Linked DNA regions of Homo sapiens. The protein of the gene in region 1 purifies or fractionates together with the protein of each later gene. This does not show direct contact. Each region holds a gene or a part of one and is shown in the gene's direction. Other genes may lie near its edges.

Region 1 (4,879 bases):
CTCAAGTGATTTGCTCACCTCGGCCTCTCAAAGTACTGGGATTACAGGCATGTGTGAGCCACTGCGCCCAGCCAATTCTATTCATTTGATCTATATGTCAATACCACACTATTTTGGTACTGTTACTGTGGCTTACTGTGGTTATTGTGGCTTTGGAGCAAATTTTGAAATTCCAGATTGTGAGGCCTCCAACTTTGTTCTTTTTTTTTTTTTGAGACGCAGTCTCGCTTTGTCGCCTATGCTGGAGTGCAATGGCGCGATCTCGGCTCACTGCAACCTCCGCCTTCTGGTTTCAGGTGATTCTCCTGCCTCAGCCTCCCGAGTAGCTGGGATTACAGGCGCCCGGCACCACGCCTAGCTAATTTTTCTATTTTTAGTAGAGATGAGGTCTCACCATGTTGGTCAGGTTGGTCTCAAACTCCTGACCTCATGATCTGCCTGCCTCTGCCTCCCAAAGTGCTGGGATTACAGGCATGAGCCACCGTGCCCAGCCAACTTTGTTCTTTTTTAAGATCGTTTTGGCTGTTTGAGGTCCCTTGAGATTCCATGTGAATTATAGCATCAACTTCCATTTTTTGCAAAAAAGGCCATTGGGATTTTGACAGGAATTGCATTGAGTAAATTGCTTTGGGGAGTTTTGCCATCTTAACAATATTCGGTCTTTCAATCCATGAACATGGGATGTCTTTCCGTTTATTTATGTCTTTAATTTCTTTCAGCAATGTTTTGTAGCTTTCAATGGACAAATCTTGCACCTCTTGGTTAAATCTATTCCCATGCATTTTATTCTTTTCGATGTTATTATAAATGAAATTGTTTGAATTTCCTTTTAAGATTGTTCATTGCTGGTATATACAATAATCAGTTGTATAGAAATACAACTGATTTTTTTGTGTTGATCTTGTATCCTACAACTTTGCTGAATTTGTTTCTTAGCATTTTTTTCTTTTTTTTTTTTTTTTTTTTTTTTTTAGACAGAGTCTCTCTCTGTTACCAGGCTGGAGTGCAGTGGCATGATCTCGGCTCACTGCAACCTCCGCCTCCCAGGTTCAAGCGATTTTTCTGCCTCAGCCTCCCAAGTAGCTGGGACTGCAGGTGCATGCCACCATGCCCAGCTAATTTTTGTATTTTTAGTAGAGATGGGGTTTCGCCATGTTGGCCAGTGTGGTCTCGATCTCTTGACCTCGTGATCTGCCCACCTCGGCCTCTCAAAGTGCTGGTATTACAGGCATGAGCCACTGCGCCTGGCCTGTTTCTTAGCTTTAATAGTTGTGTGTGTGTGTGTGTGTGTGTGTGTGTGTGTGTGTGTGTGTGTATTCTTTAGGATCCTCTATATATAACATCATACCGTCTGTGAAGAGAGGTAGCTTCCTTTCCAATTTGGATGGCTTTTATTTATTTTTCTTGCCTAATTCCTCTGATTGGAACTTCCAGTACTATGTTAAATAGCAGTAGTGGAGCAGGCATCTTTGTCTTGTTCCTGATCTTAGACAGAGGGCTTTCAATATTTTACCATTGAGTATAATGTCAGCTGTGGGGTTAAATTTTTTAACGCCTTTTATCATGTTGAGGGAGTTCCCTTCTGTTCCTAGTTTGTTGAGTGATTTTATCACAAAAGGCTATTGAATTTTGTCAAAGGCTTTTTGTGCATCAACTGAGAGATCGTGTTTTCCCCTTCTCTGCTTTTGCTCCCCTTCTACTGGTAGAAAGGACCCACCTAAAGCAAGCAGTGGGCGCCCTAGAGGGGTTACAGCCTAGCTCTTCCCTGAGAGCAGTTCTTGGTTTGAACCTGAGGGCAGCGGGTCCGCCTGAGGAAACCAGGTGTCTGGAAGGTGAAGGCTTGTGGAGCTGAGTAGATGGGGCAGTAGGTCCCAGAGATATGGCCAGCCCCAGTCATGTCCTGCTCTCTGTGGAGTCCCACAGAGGCTGACGAGGTATGGGGGCCCTGATAGCTGGCTACATGCAGGCCATGCCCTTTGGCGGGTGGTGGCGTCAGTCTGGGGCAGACCTCCCATGCTCACATAGTGTGCTCATTCACCCAGCACTGCCTTAGGTTGGGCTCCCTAGAATGGTGGCTCTTAAACCCCAGCAAGTATCTGAAACACTGGAGGGCTTGTTCCAGCAGATGGCTGGGCCCCTCCCAGAGTTTCTGATCCATGTTGTCTTGGGTAGAGACTGGGAATCTGCATTTCTAATACATTCTCAAGTGTTGTGGATGCTGCTGGTCTGAGAACCACATCCCTAGAAGCAGAGTCTGAGATGGTGCAGGCGATTTCAGATGAACCCTGCAAGAGGCACAGGCAGTGGGGAGCGGGCAGAGTGAGCAGCTGAGCACAGATGTGGATTTGGAAGTGTGGCCTCAGCCTGATTCCATGGAGATCTCTGGGGCGTGAATGTCACCACAGGGTTGCCCTGCCCAGAAGCATGTGGCCTGGCTGTTACAGGCCCTTGTCAGTCATGGCTCTCCTGGGATGATGCAGGTGAGGTGGCTTCTGTCAGGAGAAGGGCTCTGGTGCACCAGCCAGAAAAGGGGATCAACGGCATGCATGGCCAGCACCTACTGTGTGCCAGGCATGGCCTCAGCACTGTCTGCACAGCAGTGAGCAGACGCGTGCTGTCCTCCTGGAGCTGGCATCCTTTTGAGGGAGATAGATGCTAATCGGGACAGTCTGTAGCCTCAGGGAGAGAAGTGCTATCTGGGAAGATGAAGCCAAGGTGTGGGCTCCAGGGGGCCCCAGGTGGGAGTATTTTATTTTATTTTTTTGAGACAGAGTTTCACTCTGTCACCCAGGCTGGAGTGCAGTGGTGCGATCTTGGCTCACTGCAACCTCCACCCCTTGGGTTGAAGAGATTCTCCTCCCTCGCCTCCTGAGTAGCTGGGATTACAGGCACCTGCCACCATGCCCGGCTAATTTTTGTGTTTTTAATGGACACCAGATTTCACCATGTTGGCCAGGCTGGTCGTGAACTCTGGACCTCAAGTAATCCGCCTACCTCAGCCTCCCAAAGTTCTGGGATTACAGATGTAAGCCACCAAGCCTGGCTGGGTGTGGGGATTTTAGATTAGATGAGGAGGACAGGCCTCTCTGACTGGTTTCCACCTCTAAGTCCTCATCCAAAGCCTTGTTTTATAGATGAGACAGAGGCACAGAGAAGTGAATTCTAAATTCACATAGCCAGTGGCAGAACCCAGACTTGGACCAGTTTGGGGAACTTCTGAGCCTGTCCACCCCAGTCCTAGCCTCACCCACAGTGCCCTTGCCCAGGGCGAGACTATCAGGGAGCCTGACCTGCTGGATCTGGGCAGTCCCACCGTGGCATGCTGCATGTCCCAGAGAAGGTATCTGTCAGCAGTGCAGCACCCCCCACCTGCCCCACCCACAGCTCCCTCGGGGGCTATCCCTGGAAGTGTTGGTCAGAAAGTGAATCTCCAGATGTCACCTGGTGGTGCCCTGAGCTCCTCCTACCTGCCACCTCCTCTGACCACATAGAGCCTGCTCTAGCCCAGGCCCTCTTCCCTCTCCTCCCCTCACCCAGGGACCCGCCACTAGTCCGCCCCACCCACTCTGTTTATTTCTCACCTTGGCCACTGATGGGTGGTTTCTCCTAGAGCGGTGCTGCCCTGTGGAACCTTCTGCAATGATGGAAATGCTCAGACCTGCTCTGTGCAGTCCAGTCGCCACTGGCCGCATGTGGCTCTTGAAATATGGAGAGTGTAACTGAGGAACCAAACTTGAATTTTTAAAATTTTGATGAATTTACAATCACTCGTAAGTAGCCACCTGTGGCTGGCAGCCACTGGATTGGATGGTGCTGGTCTAGGGTGTTGGCAACCACATCACTGCCTTGTGCAGAAACCACTGCTGCACCAGGAGAAGGCCCAAGTGCCAGCCTCCTCTTCACTGCCCGAAGCCTGCTGCTCCGCTGAGGGGCTCGTCTCGCCAACGTTGGCACAGCAAACACACATACTTTCTCCTGTGGGGGCTGGTCCTGCTGGCCAAGTCCCGTGCATGCTCCTGGGTGGCTGCACCTGGCCCCTGCACCAGGTCAGGTCCAATCTGTGGAGGATACCAAGGAACCTCTTTGAGGTTCCCAAGTGTGTCCCATGCCACTGCAGTTTTGCAGAAGGTTAGTGTGTGTGACTTAAAAGGCAAAGAGGGCAGGCAGATCTTCTGACATCTGGGGGGAGCAAAGTTAGAATGGAATATTTGCTGCAGAACTTCTCAGAGCCTTTAGCATGCTAGGATGTGCTGCAAATCTCCAGGAGGCAGGCGGCATAAGCCATGCTTCCCAAACGACTTGCCGGTGGAAGCCTCCTTGAGGAGTGCTGTGCGAGACCCGTGGCTGTGGAGCACACGAGAGAATGCCTTTCTCGTGGTTTGTGTCCATGCTGGGCTCTCGGCTGCATTGTCTTCCAGTCTGTGTCCCCTGCTGGCTTCCCAGGGAGGGAGGGAGGCTGTGACTCCATGTGCTCCTTCAGCGGCTCGTTTGTTTGCTCATTCGTTCATGGAAAACCATGGTTCCATGCCAGCCACACGCGGGGCCTCTGCCGGGCAGTGGGATGAGTGTGGTGAACAAGAGGAGCTGATGACCTCAGGCAGGGACCTTCCTTTCTCTGGGTCTGTCCCGCAACATACACACACGCACACACGCACACGGACATACCTGTGCACACATGTATACACAAGACACATACACACACATACATACACTCATGGGTGTGTCCTGCAGCTGTCTGGCTGTGCTGGTCCCAGCTCTTACACTCCCACCCCTTCCCAGGCCCTGTGATGCCTCCATGTTACCGCCAGAGGGCCTGGGCTTGTGGAAGTGGTGCCCCGTGGGCACCTCTCCTTCCCGACCATGAGTGGGACCCTGCTCA
Region 2 (4,879 bases), on another chromosome or scaffold:
GTGCAGCCGAATGTCTCTGGGAATGAAAGGGGGAGGGAGTGTGATTCTGCCATTAAGGGTCATTTGGGCAGGCTGTGGAAAAGGTTTATTTCTCCTAGGCCTTGAAGGGTGAGTCAGTGTTTGCTGTACAGAATGGGATGTCAGGGGCAGCACAGACACAGAAGCACAGCGGTGGGAGGGCGGTGGGAGGGCTGTGGGCGGTACCAGGCTTGCATGGTGTGGTGTCCTTAGACCTCAGCAGGGAGCAGGCAGGAGCTGAGGCTGACTTCAGGTGGGTGCCTGAGAGCGCTGGCCTGAGAAGCTTGGTCTTGTAAGCAGTGGGCTTCCTAGGAGGGTTGCAGGTGGCACTGCTGAAATAGAGGAAATGCCTGCCCTAGGGCAGTGGCTGCAGAGGCCGGGTCCCGTGGGTGGGTTGGGAGATTTAGGGTGGGTGACTAGATAGAGCAGGTGCCAGTTTGAGGAGGAAGATGAGTTCTGTCCCTGCAAGACGAGGCTTCAGTGATGCCTCAGGGACAGCCACATGTTGATGCCTGGGAGGCAGCGGTCTCCTTGGTCCAAAAGGCTGGAGAGAGGACAGGATTGGCCGTGTGAGCCACGGGGCAGGAGTGTATGGGAGGGGGTGGGGTCAGAAACAGGAGAGGCTGGGCCTAGGCACTCCCCTGCAGCCCCCCTGCAGCCCAGGACCACAGCTCAGGAGGGATGGAAGAGGATGGAGCTGGAGAGGGAGGGGCAAGGGCACTGTGTGGGGTCAGAGAAGAGGAGAGGAAGAGGGGAACTGCTGCTGGGAAGCTAGGTGTGTTAGGGCCGGAGGAGACCCTCGGGCTTGGCTTGAAGGGTGGCTTTGGTGACCCTGGGGAGAGTGGTTTGGGACATGGGTTCAGGTGCAAGCCATACCACAGTGGGCCAGGGAACAGTGGCTGGGAGGGGCGGCTGGGTGTGGAAGTGGCCTGCAGGTGCACGGAGGGCGAGGCGCGACCGTGAGGCTGGGACTCTCGAGGGCATGCAGATGCCTTTCCAGAAGGCACGTGTCCCCGTGTGGGGTCAGGCGGACAGCCCCGCCGACCAGCGAGGCTGCCTGATTCTGACCCGTTCTTGTCACCCGCAGAGCTGCCATCAGTCATGCTCTTAAACGGGGACTGCCCAGAGAGCCTGAAGAAGGAGGCGGCGGCGGCCGAGCCACCCAGGGAAAATGGGCTTGACGAGGCCGGCCCGGGAGATGAGACCACCGGCCAGGAAGTCATTGTCATTCAGGACACGGGCTTTTCTGTGAAGATCCTCGCCCCTGGGATCGAGCCCTTCTCCCTGCAGGTAAGATGGAGGAACGGGTGCTGGGGGCCAGGCCTGAGCCTGCTGGGGAGGGTGAGCTGGAAAGCTCAGCCTTGCTCGTGCTCCTACCGGCCCCATTTTGTGGCAGGAAACTGAGGATCCCGTGCCCTCCCTAGAGTCACTCAGCTAGCGTGGTGGACGTGGGAATCGAGCCCAGGGTCAGGTCGTTGCCCCATTGCTAGAGGACAGCAACCAGCTGGGCCTGCCAGCCCTATGTGGGGAGGGGAGTGATAGTGGCTGGGAAGTGTTGGCATCCCAGGACTCCCCAGCCTCTTGCTCTGTGCCCTCAGGCAAGTCACCTCTCTCTGGGCCGTGATTTTACCATCTGCCAGAGGGGAGGGTAGTATTGGGTTATCTCCAAGGGCAGAGCCAGCGTGGAGGTCTTGCAAGCCGGTGACTCAGTGGGGAACGAGACAGGGTCGTCGTATGTCTCGGCACCCGCAGGCTTGGGCCCCAGAGCACCCCTTCTGGAAGGGGAAAGCCATTTGCCCCAGGCACCTTAGCACTGGGCAAGGCCGGGGGCGAGCCTGCCGTCTTCTGTCCCGCTGTTCTTCATCTCCCTTCTCTGCTCGGGCATTGCTCTGGGTCTGCAGGCCGAGTCGGTGGGCCAGGCTCCAGGCTGCACACACAGGGCATGGCATGTGTGGACATGGCCTGGATTTAAAAGCCAGAAAGTGGGATAGCCGATATTCGAGTATTTGGGGCATTTATTCTGGGGACCAAGGTACTTTGGGCTGGGGACAAGGGGATATTGTCCTTGCTGTCCGCTACGTGGCCTCTCACCGGGGCGGTTGGGGCCTTCTCTCCCCGCTACGTGCTCTCTCACCGGGGTGGGCGGGGCCTTCTCCCTGCAGGTGTCCCCCCAGGAGATGGTGCAGGAGATTCACCAGGTGCTCATGGACCGGGAGGACACGTGTCACCGCACCTGCTTCTCACTGCACCTGGATGGCAACGTGCTGGACCACTTCTCGGAGCTGCGCAGCGTCGAGGGGCTGCAGGAGGGCTCTGTGCTGCGTGTGGTGGAAGGTTGGTCTGGAAGTTGGACAGCCTGCCCGGGGGAGGGCCCACGGAGGCAGAGGCAGGCAGCACCATCCATGCCAGGGTCCCTGTGTCACGGATGAGCTCATGGAGGCAGGATTGGAGCACAGATCTGCTTCTCAGGCCAGCACACCTATATCTGCCAACTTCACGGCCCATGGGTTAAAGAACAGAGCCGTGGGCTGGGCATGGTGGCTCACGCCTGTAATCCCAACACTTTGGGAGGCCAAGGCGTGTGGATCACCTGAGGTCAGGAGTTGGAGACTTGCCTGGCCAACATGGTGAAACCCCATCTCTACTAAAAATACAAAAAGTTAGCTGCGCGTGGTGGCAGGTGCCTGTAATCCCAGCTACTCGGGAGGCTGAGGCAGGAGAATCACTTGAACCTGGGAGGCAGAGGTTGCAGTGTGCCCGGATCGTGCCACTGCACTCCAGCATGGGCAACAAGAACGAAACTCCGTCTCAAAAAAAAAAACAAAACAAAAGAACAGAGCCGTGATTCTAAAAAAAAAAAATCAGGCAGTACCATCCCAGGGCGTGAAGTCAGCGCAGTTCAGTTCTGTAGAGATCCATGAGAAGTCCCAAACGTTTCCTAGCCCTAGAGTGGGGAGGTCGGGCACGGGGAGGTGCCATCCGGTTGGTCTGTGGCCTCGAGTTTTCTGGGTAGAAGCTGCTTGGGTTCCACCCCAGGGCCTGTCCGCCTGTTGAGAGCAGTGACGGAAAAGGTCTGTAGCTCAACAGCGCCCACAGTTGATCACGGAACCTCTCCCCTCCACCAAAAGAACTGCCATTAAAATCCCATGAAACCACATAGGGGCAGTGTTGACATTGGGGGCCTTGGAAAGTCCTCAGGCCACCCCTACATGAGGCTGCCTCGGGAGAGCAGGGCAAGGCTGTGGTGTGGAAGTCCCACAGCTCCAAAAGCCCTGCCCAGCCGACACACTGGCGCACAAAAGCAGGCAGCCTTGTGGACGCCTGAGGCCTGTGTGTGCTTCAGAGGCATTTGGCAGAAAGTTCTTTATAAACAAAGATCCCTGCTCACCAGTAGGCAGAGTGTGTGTGTGTGTGTGTTTGTGGTGTCAAAACCAGAACTCCAGCTTATGTGTTCACAGTGGAATTTGAAAACGGAAACCTAAAGTTGAAAATTAAAACCACTGTGTTAGCACCTCCAAAACCTGTTTTGTGCTGGGCAGGTTGTTCAGGGTGCAGGGCCCTGGTAACGCCATACCCTCCCTGCCTTCCTGACAGAGCCGTACACGGTGCGTGAGGCCCGCATCCACGTGCGCCATGTCCGAGACCTGCTCAAGAGCCTGGACCCATCCGATGCCTTCAACGGGGTTGACTGCAACTCCTTGTCCTTCCTGAGTGTCTTCACCGACGGCGACCTGGGAGGTGCGGGAGGCACTGGGGCCGGGGATTGGGCCAAAGGGCGGGGAGCACGGAGGTGGGGGGCTGGAGAAGGGGCCGAGGGGCCTGGGCCTGAGGCACCCGGACCACGGCCATCAGGAGGTAGGGAGACAGCTGGCCCTGGGTGGCCCTGTGCTGACCACCAGCCTCGGGTCCCTCAGACAGCGGGAAGCGGAAGAAGGGCTTGGAGATGGACCCCATCGACTGCACACCACCCGAGTACATCCTGCCAGGGAGCCGGGAGCGGCCACTGTGTCCCCTGCAGCCCCAAAACCGTGACTGGAAGGTAGGATCCTGGGGGAGGGAGGAAGAGGGTCCCTGGCGGGGTGGAGGCCCCACACCAGAGGCCTGGCCCCTCAGACTCGGCCGCTCCCGAAGCCCTTGCAGTGCCTGAAAGTACTCACCATGAGCGGATGGAACCCGCCCCCGGGGAACCGGAAGATGCACGGGGACCTCATGTACCTGTTTGTGATCACAGCCGAGGACCGGCAAGTCAGCATCACCGCGTCCACACGGGGCTTTTACCTGAATCAGTGAGTCCCTGCCAGCCCACCACACCCCCCTGCCGTGCCAGCCGTCCTGGGTCTGGGCAGACACCTGGGCCCCCGCTCAGTGCCCGCCCTCTCCCTGCAGGTCCACAGCTTATCACTTCAACCCCAAGCCCGCCAGCCCCCGCTTCCTAAGCCATTCCCTAGTGGAGCTGCTCAACCAGATCAGCCCGACCTTCAAGAAGAACTTCGCTGTGCTGCAGAAGAAAAGGTAGTGCCTTTGTCCCCTCCCGCCTTGTCTCATGGCACACGGGGGCATGGGGTGAGCCGGCCCACCTGCACTCCAGTGCTTCTGTCTGAAGAAACCGCCCTGGGCCCCCAGTGTTGGAGTCCCCGCTCTAGGGAGCTGTCGGCCAGTGCCGAGACAGCAGCCGCAGGAGAGGCGCCCGTGCACTTCCATCTGGCTCCAGGGCAGTGTCTCAGGGTGGGAGATGCCGGAGCAGGCGGGGGCCTCAGAAAAGGGGCCCGTGGAAGGGCTCTGAGCTTGGTGGGCTGCCCCATCTCCCCCTCCCCTGCCTGCCACAGGGTCCAGCGCCACCCGTTCGAGAGGATCGCCACCC
Region 3 (4,879 bases), on another chromosome or scaffold:
GGTAAAGTCAGTTTAAAAATCTGCTGTAGTTCTAGTTAACACGTTCACACCTTCTTCAGTAAAGTGGAATGCTGTTACCAAAGGAAGTATTCGTGTTTTAGAGGGGGGTGTGGTGAAGGTTCTTACAAGTTTGGAAGAGGTGGAAGAAAATGTTGTTACAATTGTGTAGAGTAGTGAAGGGCTTTGGTAAATATCCTGTCAAATCATAGAGTAGTATTTTTAGAGTTGCACCCAGCTGTCCATTAGAAGAGCCAGAGGCCTTGTCTGTTTTGTTCCCTGGTGTCCCCAGTATCCAGCGCAGTTATCCGCATATTCTGTGCCCTCAGATATTTTTTAATTAAGTGAATACTATTGATATGGGAAAAAGAACAGTTATGGTGGTTTATAGCAGTGTTAGTTATTAAAAGCTACCTGATATTTTGCAATGGATTAAAGAGCCAATTTTTGATCAAATAGGGCTCTGGGTAGGAAAGAAAATGAAAATGAAGAGCCAGCTTTCAGTGCTTATTGTTTGGAATTTTTGAGATTCCTTTAAGAAATTGTTTTCTAAAGACTGTCATGAACATTATCGAGTCCCCTAGTTTTTGAGTCTTAATGAATCTTAAGTGTTTCAGATGTTAGTTACTTTTTTAAGAGCACAGTAAGTGCAAAGGTAGTATAGAATAGTGGGAAGTTCTGGATTGACAGACATATATTCTGATTCCATCTGTGTCATTTATTGCTGTTGGGAATGTCACTTAACTTCTCTGGGCGTCAGTTTTCTCATATATACAATTAAGGGCCTATAGTCTTTGACCTCAAGTAGTTTCTCTAGCCTGATTCTGCAAATTTTTAATCATTTCTAATTATGTTATTTGGTATTCATCTCATATAGGTAGATGAACTTTTATTATTTAAAAGAAACAAGATTCTGTGTTGGGTTCTGCTTTTAGCTTATGGATTTTAGACATTGTCCAAAAGTGCTTCCGATGTTGAATGTATGTTGCAAGTGTTATGTAGAAAGAACATGCTTATGCTGTTGTAATTGGCTTAGTGTTGAAATCAAATTGGGTTTTACATTGGGAACTTCATAATTTAGTGTGAAGTCATGAGACTTGAGAATGGTTTGGGGGGAGTTTGTGCAATTTATATAGCTAGCTGTTTCTTACCACCTAATTCTGTAATTTTCTATGATGAATATATAGATAAATTTATAATCAGTGTAACATTGATTTAAGTTATAAGATGATATCAGATTCATACTGGATTGAACTAGAACTCCCAGTAACTTTAGAGGCTACCAAATTATTAACATGTCATTGCTATTTTTAATCTTAATTTTGTGATATCAATACTGATATGCTTTCATCTTTGCTTTTGTATCTAGAAACAATATACCTTTTAAGTTCATATTTGTATCAGATATTAAAAATGAAAATTGTAGCATGAAAGTGGGTAGATAGTAAATCTTGGGTTCAAGCCTGGGTTGTTATTCTTCATTACCCATGTTGTTTCTGGCAAGCTACATAACCCCCCTGAGCTCCAGTTCCCTCATTAGTGAAAGGAAGAAGAGCAACTTTTCTACTTTTCTAACAGACTGTGGATCAAACAATAGTGTATATGAAAAGCATTCTAAAAATGTAAGGGGCTGGTATTAGAATCGTATTGTATTAGAATCCTATTTTATGTCTTTGAAGAATTGGCTTGTGGAGCAGTGGTAAACCTAGTCTGTATTGTCAAGTGCAGAATTTACCAATATCACTGATATGGCAACAGAGAAGGTTTCTGCTTCTGTACTCTGGCTGGAGAAACCTTTCAGCACATGTATCCTGTCTGCCAGTCGGAATAGTCACAATGTTGCAGGGACTTCAGAGGAACCTGGGATGTCTCACATTTATGCCAAGGTCTCTACTTGGAATAGACTTGGCTAGATTTCACCCATTTTCTTATGTTGGAGCAGTGGTAGAAGGTGGTAGGAGCAAGGAGTTCAGCACATTCTGTGTAAAGTTCTAAGGCTGTGTTTTTAAGTAGCAGGTGGCAGTGTCATAGGGTAATGAAATCAATGTACTTATTTAAAAAAGCATTTTCAGAAAGAGAATATATCAGTACATTGCATAAAGTAAAAGTAAATATAGACACAGAGGTATTGTCTTGATGCTGATAGCTGCAGATATTCAGAATGATTCTGTTACAACAGATGGTAGCAAGCTTTTCTGATTTCACTTATCTGGGGTCTAAATCTAATTTCTTTAGTAGTTAATACTGTTTTGTTTTGTTTTTTTTTTTGGACACAGAATCTTGCTCTGTTTGCCCAGGCTAGAGTGCAGTGGCACGATCTCGGCTCACTGTAACCTCTGCCTCCCGGGTTCAAGATTTGGGAAACTTTTGTTTCTTTTTAAAAGATATTTTTATGTATGTATACTTGGTTGCCGTGTAAAATGTATTTTTTCTTTTTAAAAATTATAATTTTCATTTTTTGTAGAGACAGGGTTTTGCTACGTTGCCCAGGCTGGTCTTGAACTCCTGGGCTCAAAGGTAGTCCTCCTGCTTTGGCCTCCCAAAGTGCTGGGATTGTAGACATGAGCCACTGTGCCTGGCCTAAAAGGTTGTTTTTTTCTTTTGGGTTGTGATAAAACTTTGTCGTCGTTGTTTGGGGACATAGTACTTGGGCAATGTGGATAGAATGACTGTCTATAAAATAGTAAGGCATGAAACTAACGAAAACAAAAAGAAAATTGTGAAGGTGGGTTACCTTAAAGCTATTCTGTTAGTGGTGAAATACCTCATAGCTATGTTCTGAACTGTTGATTTAATGAACAAAGCACATGAACTTATGCTGTAATAATATTCTTAAGTACTCTTTTCCCTTAACATGGAGTATGGAGTACTTTAACCACAGAGGTATTGTCTTGATGCTGATAACTACGGATATTCAGAATGATTCTGTTATGACAGATGATAGCAAGCTTTTCTGATTTCACTTACCTGGGGTCGAAATCTAATTTCTTTATTAGTTAATACTTTTTTTTTTTTTTTTTTTTTTTGAGACAGAGTCTCGCTCTGTTGCCCAGGCTGGAGTGCAGTGGCGCGATCTCGGCTCACTGTAACCTCCGCCTCCTGGGTTCAAGTGATTCTCCCTGCCTCAGCCTCCCCAAGTCGTTAATACTTTTATAACTTAGTTGCAGAAGAGAAATATAAATTTATTTAGTTTTCAGAATTATTCATAGATTTATAATCTGGCAAAATATAAGGAAATTATAAGTATATTGATAAATCATGACATAACTGGCAAGAATTGGTATGAAGACAAGATGGTTATAACTTGAAATAGGGTTGTTATTTATTCTATGCCTATCATTTTTCCATGAGATAAACCAAATATTTAATTGTTTAGACTGATTCCACAAATGACATGGGAAGGCAGAGTGTTTATAAAGAGTTTTGGAAGTGATATAGGACACTATAATTTGGAGTTTTAACTTAATCTTATTTTAAATTTCAAAATGAAATTATTTCTGGTTATGAAAGCTACGGAACTTTTTTTTTTTTTTTTTTTTTTAGATGGCGTCTCGCTCTGTCACTCAGGCTGGAATGCAGTGGTGTGATCTCAGCTCACTGCAACCTCAGCCTCCTGGTTCTAGCAATTCTGCTGCCTTAGCCTCCTGAGTAGTTGGGATTACAGGTACCTGCCACCACGCCTGGCTAATTTTTGTATTTTTAGTAGAGACAGGGTTTCACCATGTTGGCCAGGCTGGTTTCGAACTCCTGACCTCAGGTGATCCGCCTGCCTTCGCCTCCCAAAGTGGTGGGATTACAGGCGTGAGCCACTGCACCTGGCCCAGAACGGTTTTAGTGTTTTTTAAAAAAAAAAGTAGAGATGACCTGTAATCCCATCTGGATGTAATGTTTGGTATTTTTGTTTTTTTTCTTATACATATCTATTGAAATAATTTTAAAAAGAACAACTTTCCCTGTAAAATTGATATTCCCTTAATGAGCATTTAGTGTTTATAATATGGATGCATCATAGTTTATAGCAGTTCTGTGTTATTAATGGATATTGTCAATTTTTCTCTTAAAGCAGTACTGTGATGAACTCGTTTGGACATTGAATTGCATTGAATTGTTCTATTATTTTATTATTTCCTTAGGATAAATTCTTTTTTTTTTTTTTTTTGAGACAGAGTCTCACTTTGTCGCCCAGGCTGGAGTGCGGTGGTGCGATCTAGGCTCACTGCAGCCTCTGCCTCCCGGGTTCAAGCGATTCTCCTGCCTCAGCCTCCTGAGTAGCTGGGCGTACAGGCGCATGCCACCACGCCCGGCTAATTTTTTGTATTTTTAGTAGAGACAGGGTTTCACCATGTTGACCAGGATGGCCTCGATCTCCTGACCTCATGATCCACCTGCCTCCGCCTCCCAAAGTGCTGGGATTACAGGCCTGAGCCACTGCACCTGGCCCAGGATAAATTCTTAAAAGTGGGTTTATTACCTGGGCGTGGTGGCTCATGCATGTAATCCCAGCACTTTGGGAGGCCAAGGCGGGTGGATCACCTGAGGTCAGCAGTTCAAGACCAGGCTGGCCAACATGGTAAAACCCCGTCTCTACTAAAAATACAAAAATCAGTCGGGTGTGGTGGCGGGCCTCTGTAATTCCAGCTACTTGGAAGGCTGAGGCACAGAGAATCACTTGAACCCAGGAGGCAGAGGTTGCAGTGAGCCGAGATTAAGCTGCTGCACTCTAGCCTGGGCCACAGAGTGAGACTCAGTCTCAAAAGAAAAAAAAAAGTGGGATTATTAGGTCAAACGGTACGTGTGTTTTAAATTTAGATATACTCAAGATGCCCTTTAGATAGGATGTCTATTTCAAATTCCCATCAACAGTGTATTAGTATTCAATTCC
Region 4 (4,879 bases), on another chromosome or scaffold:
AGGCTAGGACAGGGGCATCTGAGCAGTGACAGGTAGTTCTTTGAAAAAGTAGGATGTGGTGACAGCCTAGGTATGACATATGCCTTCCCATTGGTTGCCAGTATTGATTGGGCTAGTCTCGCTAGTCATAAGGGTTTTTCTCTCCTTATTTTTTGCTCCATATGCATTCTTCATCTCATGAAGTCTTCCCAGTGAAGCTGTGCTTTCTGTTGCTGATGAGAGAAAAATCAGGTATTTCTAGGGAAAGAACTGAATTGATCCCACAGATAAATACTTGCCTTAAAAAAAGAACTGAATTGGGAGCTGGATGTAATCTACATAATCTGGACTTTCATCCCCATTTTTCCACTAATTAGCCATGTGACTTTGGGAAGGTCACATAACCTTTATGAGACAGTTTCTTCAGGTGTAAAGTGAGAATAATGATTCTGCCCTGGACACCCCACAGGACTGAGGGGAGGGTCAGTGAGATGATGCAGGATCAGTTCCAGTTTACAAAGTGCTCTCATATAGGTGAGCCGTCCTCCTTTTCTGTTCTTTGTGGGTTTTTATTTTTCATGAGCTTCTGTTTCTAAGGTATATTTTGAAATGTAATATGAATTTGTAATTTGATGTATATAACATAGGTAAAATTAGGCAAGTATCTATTTAGGTATCTAATTGTGCAGATTCTTTTGTCACTGCCCTGCATTATAGCCATATCAGTTATTTTTTCATTGAAAGAATGCAGTTGTTATTTTTGTTGTTTTTCCAAATTCTTGTAGGATCTAATTTCCATTTTGCCGTTTAAAAAATTATTGTTCATACGATCTTTTAAAAGGATTTTTTTTTAAGTTTGCCTTCTGTTGAACTAGGAGTTAAGTACTTATTTTTCAACTTTTGTCTTTATAGGATCTTTAATGACTTGCTACTGTGGGAACCAACAGCTCCTTCACCAGTGGAGACATTCGAGAATATTTCCTATGGCATTGGGCTTTCAGTAGCCAGTCAGCTCATTAATACTTTCAACAAAGATAGTTTTAGTGCATTTAAATCTGCAGTTCACTATGGTAATATATTTTTAATTTGTTTTGATTTAAAATGCCTAGTTTATCAATTAACAAAGTACTAACCTTTGAATTGTGGATTTAAAAATCTTTATGTTTCATTGTAACTATATTTTGCAATTTCTTTTAGTAATTTATAAGAATATTTCCTTATTTCTATCTGTATATTGAGAATATCATTATCACTTAAATATGTTCTCTTTAGAATGATAGTGTGCACATTGTTTGAAGTTCAAAGCTAAAGAGAAAAACAGTATGTATTTCTGTGTTCACACCATATTCTTTGTAAAACTAAGCAGGTTATATAAAATATTTTCATGATCATTTTTATGTTGCTGTTTTAATATGCTATCAGAATGTAATTGTATGTTTATTTCTCATAGATGAGGAAAGTGGATCTGAGGAGGAGACTTTGCAGTATTTTTCCACTGTTGATCCCAACTATCGTTCTCGCAGGAAAAAAAAATTAGACTCTCAGAACAAGAACTCTCAGAGTTTTCTCTCAGTTCTTCTGAATATTAATCATGGATTAATAGCAGTGTTCACAGATGTGAAGGTGAGGTTTACAAATCCGAAGTGTTTTTTCAAATGTATCTTACTTTAAATAAATCTGCTAGGATACATATCTAGTGATTGAAGTATTTGATATTTTGAAGTTGTTTCAGGGACTGATGAAGACCAGTGTCCTGGGGCAAACCATGATGATAGCAACTTTGGGGATTTAGCTTTCGTTGCAGATCAAACTTTGTGGGGCTCTCCCTTTGGAAAACAGGTGCTAATTCTGCTTCTGGGGTGACAACAAAGTACAGAGATTCATCTGATAGAAGAGGTTCCACATAGCATTTAAGTTATCCAGTTTTATTTTATACCATGATATTGAATAGTTCAAGGATTAGACTGCTTTGCTGCAGTATGGGAGATTTTCCTAAGCTGAATCAACAAAGAGCATCTCAAGGAACATGCTTACTTTTCTGCATTTAAGTAATAACTTCTGTGTTTTTCTGATCTTTTTACTAGCAAGATAATGGAGATCTGTTGGAAAACAAGCATGGTGAATTCTGGTTAGAGTTCAATAGTGGTTCATTATTTTGTGTGACAAAATATGAAGGTTTTGATGACAAGCACTACATTTGCCTTCATTCTAGCAGTTTCAGTCTGTACCATAAAGGTAGGACAAACACGTGTCTTGGTTTCTTCTCTTTAGACATGTTTAAATTTCTTGTTTAACAAAGAAAATCTATTGAGAACAGAACTTTGGTATTAGAAATTATTTTCTGTGGAGGGCTCTCATTCTGCTGTCAAAGTAATATTTACAAATTAGAAGTCAACTTCAGGTTCTTTTTTTGCAATAGCTTTGTTGAGGTATAATTCACACACCATACTCATTTAAAGTGTACCTTTCAGTGGTTTTTAGTATTTCACAAGAGTTATGCAACCGTCACCATAGTCAATTTTAAAACATGTTTATTACCCCATGAAGAAATTTCATACACTTTAGTGATAAACTTTCACCCCTTCCGCTCTCTCCTTCCCGTAAACACACTAACCTACACTCTGTTTCTATGGATTTGCATATTCAGAAGTTTCTTATAAATGGAATCATACAATATTTGGCCTTTTTGACTGGCTTCTTTCATTTGACACGCTTTCAAAGTTCATCCAAGTTGTATCTGTACTTCATTCCTTTTTATTGCCAAATAATATTCCACTGTAAAGATAGATCACATCTTATGTATCCATTCATCAGTCGATGGGACTATATGTTCTTTATTCTTCTTTAAGGAATATTTCCTTTTGGTTCCAGATATAGAACCTACCATTTTTTGAGCAGTTACCTGAGTTTACCTTGTTTCATAGACATGAGATGTTTGTGATAGTTTTCTATTTAATTTTCCTAGCATTTCAGAATCTTTTGTTTCTTTAAGCTGTGTACGGTCAGTCACACTAACATTAGCAAAGAGGAGTGGATTATTAATGCCATGCTGGTTTTTGTCATCATGCCTCCTTAAGTTATATTCAGTGGAAGTACGTGGATTTTTGTTTTGAGTCATGTAAGTTGATTAGCTAATTTCAAGTAATCATTTTGTTACTATTTTTACCTCAATGTGGATCTCTAGGCATAGTGAATGGAGTGATTCTCCCGACAGAAACACGACTTCCCAGCTCAACCCGCCCACACTGGTTGGAACCTACTATTTATTCCTCTGAAGAAGATGGCCTCAGTAAAACTTCTTCAGATGGAGTTGGAGGAGACAGTTTGAATATGCTGTCTGTTGCCGTTAAAATATTGTCTGATAAATCAGAGTCCAATACAAAGGTTTGTGTTTTGTACTTTTATGCCACTGTTGATTTGATTCTAGCTAAAAATAATTACATAAAAGGCAACATATTTATTTTCTTGGAAAAACTTTTGAGTTATAGGATTACATAGGTGGTAAATGTCATTCTTTGTCTTGTTCTGTATAGGAATTTCTCATTGCCGTAGGACTGAAAGGAGCCACTCTCCAGCATAGAATGCTTCCTTCTGGGCTTAGCTGGCATGAGCAGGTAAGAGAGCTGTTATATATGTATTAATTTATTTAAAAATTTGTGTTGACATCTAATACACATACTGAAAAGTTTGTAAGTCATAAATGTTCAGCTCAGTGAATTATCATTAAGTGAATACTACGGTGTCACCACCTTTTAGGTTAAGAAATAGAACAGTATTGGCCGGGCACGGTGGCTCATGCCTGTAATCCCAGCACTTTGGGAAGCCAAGGCAGGTGGATCACCTGAGGTCAGGAGTTCGAGCCCAGCTTGGTCAATCCCGTCTCTACTAAAAATACAAAAATTAGCTGGGCGTGGTGGAATGCACCTGTAATCCCAGCTACTGGAGAGGCTGAGGCAGGAGAATCGCTTGAACCCGGGAGGCGGAGGTTGCAGTGAGCTGAGATCGTGCCACTGCACTCCAGTCTGGCGACAAGAGCGAAGCTCTGTCTCAAAAAACAAAACAAAACAAAACAAAACAAAACAAAACAAAACAAAACAGTATTATCACCTCAGAATGTAATTGGTTTTTTACCTTAAAGTGTGGTCCTCAAAACCTCTCAATGACAGAGTTATCTTATATGTCATTAAAGGAAGGGAAGGGACTCTGTATCCCAGGACTTGTAGAATGTCTGGCGTAGAGGAGCAGTGAATGGTGTGTTGAATTGCTTTTATAATCAGAAGTTCTTTAAGTGCAATATTTCCATATAATTCCCTAGGCCAATAATATGATGTTGCTTTAAAGCATTTTATCAGGATTTCTCTCATTAATTTCCAGTTCAACAACTTTTTATGGTAATAAAATACAATTGGTTATTTTTCAGAGGAGACTTTGAGTAAGAAGTTAGCTTTTCCTTATGTGAGAATGAAAACTAGTGCACTATGATTGCTTCTCATGTTTCTTATAAAGGAGAACTTCTTAATTGTGCTGGGAAAATAATACATTATTTAAAAACTTGAGTGTTTTCAAAATTCTTTTCTCATGAAAGCATTTAGGAAACATGAGAATATCTGTCTGACTTTCTATCTGGTAGGAGTAGAGAAGTGGTTAGGGTGAATAACCAGCTGGAAGGGAGACATTTAGCAGAACCTCCTTATTTGTTTGGATTAGAAATATGAAAGAATAGATGTTGGTGAGAGGGACTGGTTTTTAGACTGAGCTAGGTATACATTAAGGAAAAAGAGCTTCCTTCAACAATGACTTATATGAAAAACCAATCGCCCCTGCACACAATGAGTTATATAAGAAGCCAGATTGATAGTTTTAAGCAGTCTTTAGCAAAATTTATTTTTTCTGAGAATTG

What was found. The genes of interacting proteins can lie anywhere in the genome.
Region 2: the proteins of HDAC11 (region 1) and CLUH purify together in Homo sapiens (co-immunoprecipitation; 3 studies listed by BioGRID and IntAct, with this or other methods). This does not show direct contact.
Region 3: the proteins of HDAC11 (region 1) and MTMR3 purify together in Homo sapiens (co-immunoprecipitation; 3 studies listed by BioGRID and IntAct, with this or other methods). This does not show direct contact.
Region 4: the proteins of HDAC11 (region 1) and ATG2B purify together in Homo sapiens (co-immunoprecipitation; 4 studies listed by BioGRID and IntAct, with this or other methods). This does not show direct contact.

The regions. Positions count from the first base shown.
Region 1 is NC_000003.12:13,489,799-13,494,677, forward strand, and holds part of HDAC11 (histone deacetylase 11), read left to right. Parts: intron 1-4,879. UniProt on the Homo sapiens protein: Responsible for the deacetylation of lysine residues on the N-terminal part of the core histones (H2A, H2B, H3 and H4).
Region 2 is NC_000017.11:2,700,791-2,705,669, reverse strand, and holds part of CLUH (clustered mitochondria protein homolog), read left to right. Parts: intron 1-1,105; coding exon 1,106-1,308; intron 1,309-2,180; coding exon 2,181-2,352; intron 2,353-3,612; coding exon 3,613-3,756; intron 3,757-3,932; coding exon 3,933-4,057; intron 4,058-4,149; coding exon 4,150-4,304; intron 4,305-4,404; coding exon 4,405-4,530; intron 4,531-4,844; coding exon 4,845-4,879. UniProt on the Homo sapiens protein: mRNA-binding protein involved in proper cytoplasmic distribution of mitochondria.
Region 3 is NC_000022.11:29,885,769-29,890,647, forward strand, and holds part of MTMR3 (phosphatidylinositol-3,5-bisphosphate 3-phosphatase MTMR3), read left to right. Parts: intron 1-4,879. UniProt on the Homo sapiens protein: Lipid phosphatase that specifically dephosphorylates the D-3 position of phosphatidylinositol 3-phosphate and phosphatidylinositol 3,5-bisphosphate, generating phosphatidylinositol and phosphatidylinositol 5-phosphate.
Region 4 is NC_000014.9:96,313,868-96,318,746, reverse strand, and holds part of ATG2B (autophagy-related protein 2 homolog B), read left to right. Parts: intron 1-891; coding exon 892-1,049; intron 1,050-1,429; coding exon 1,430-1,602; intron 1,603-2,063; coding exon 2,064-2,214; intron 2,215-3,163; coding exon 3,164-3,363; intron 3,364-3,512; coding exon 3,513-3,593; intron 3,594-4,879. UniProt on the Homo sapiens protein: Lipid transfer protein required for both autophagosome formation and regulation of lipid droplet morphology and dispersion.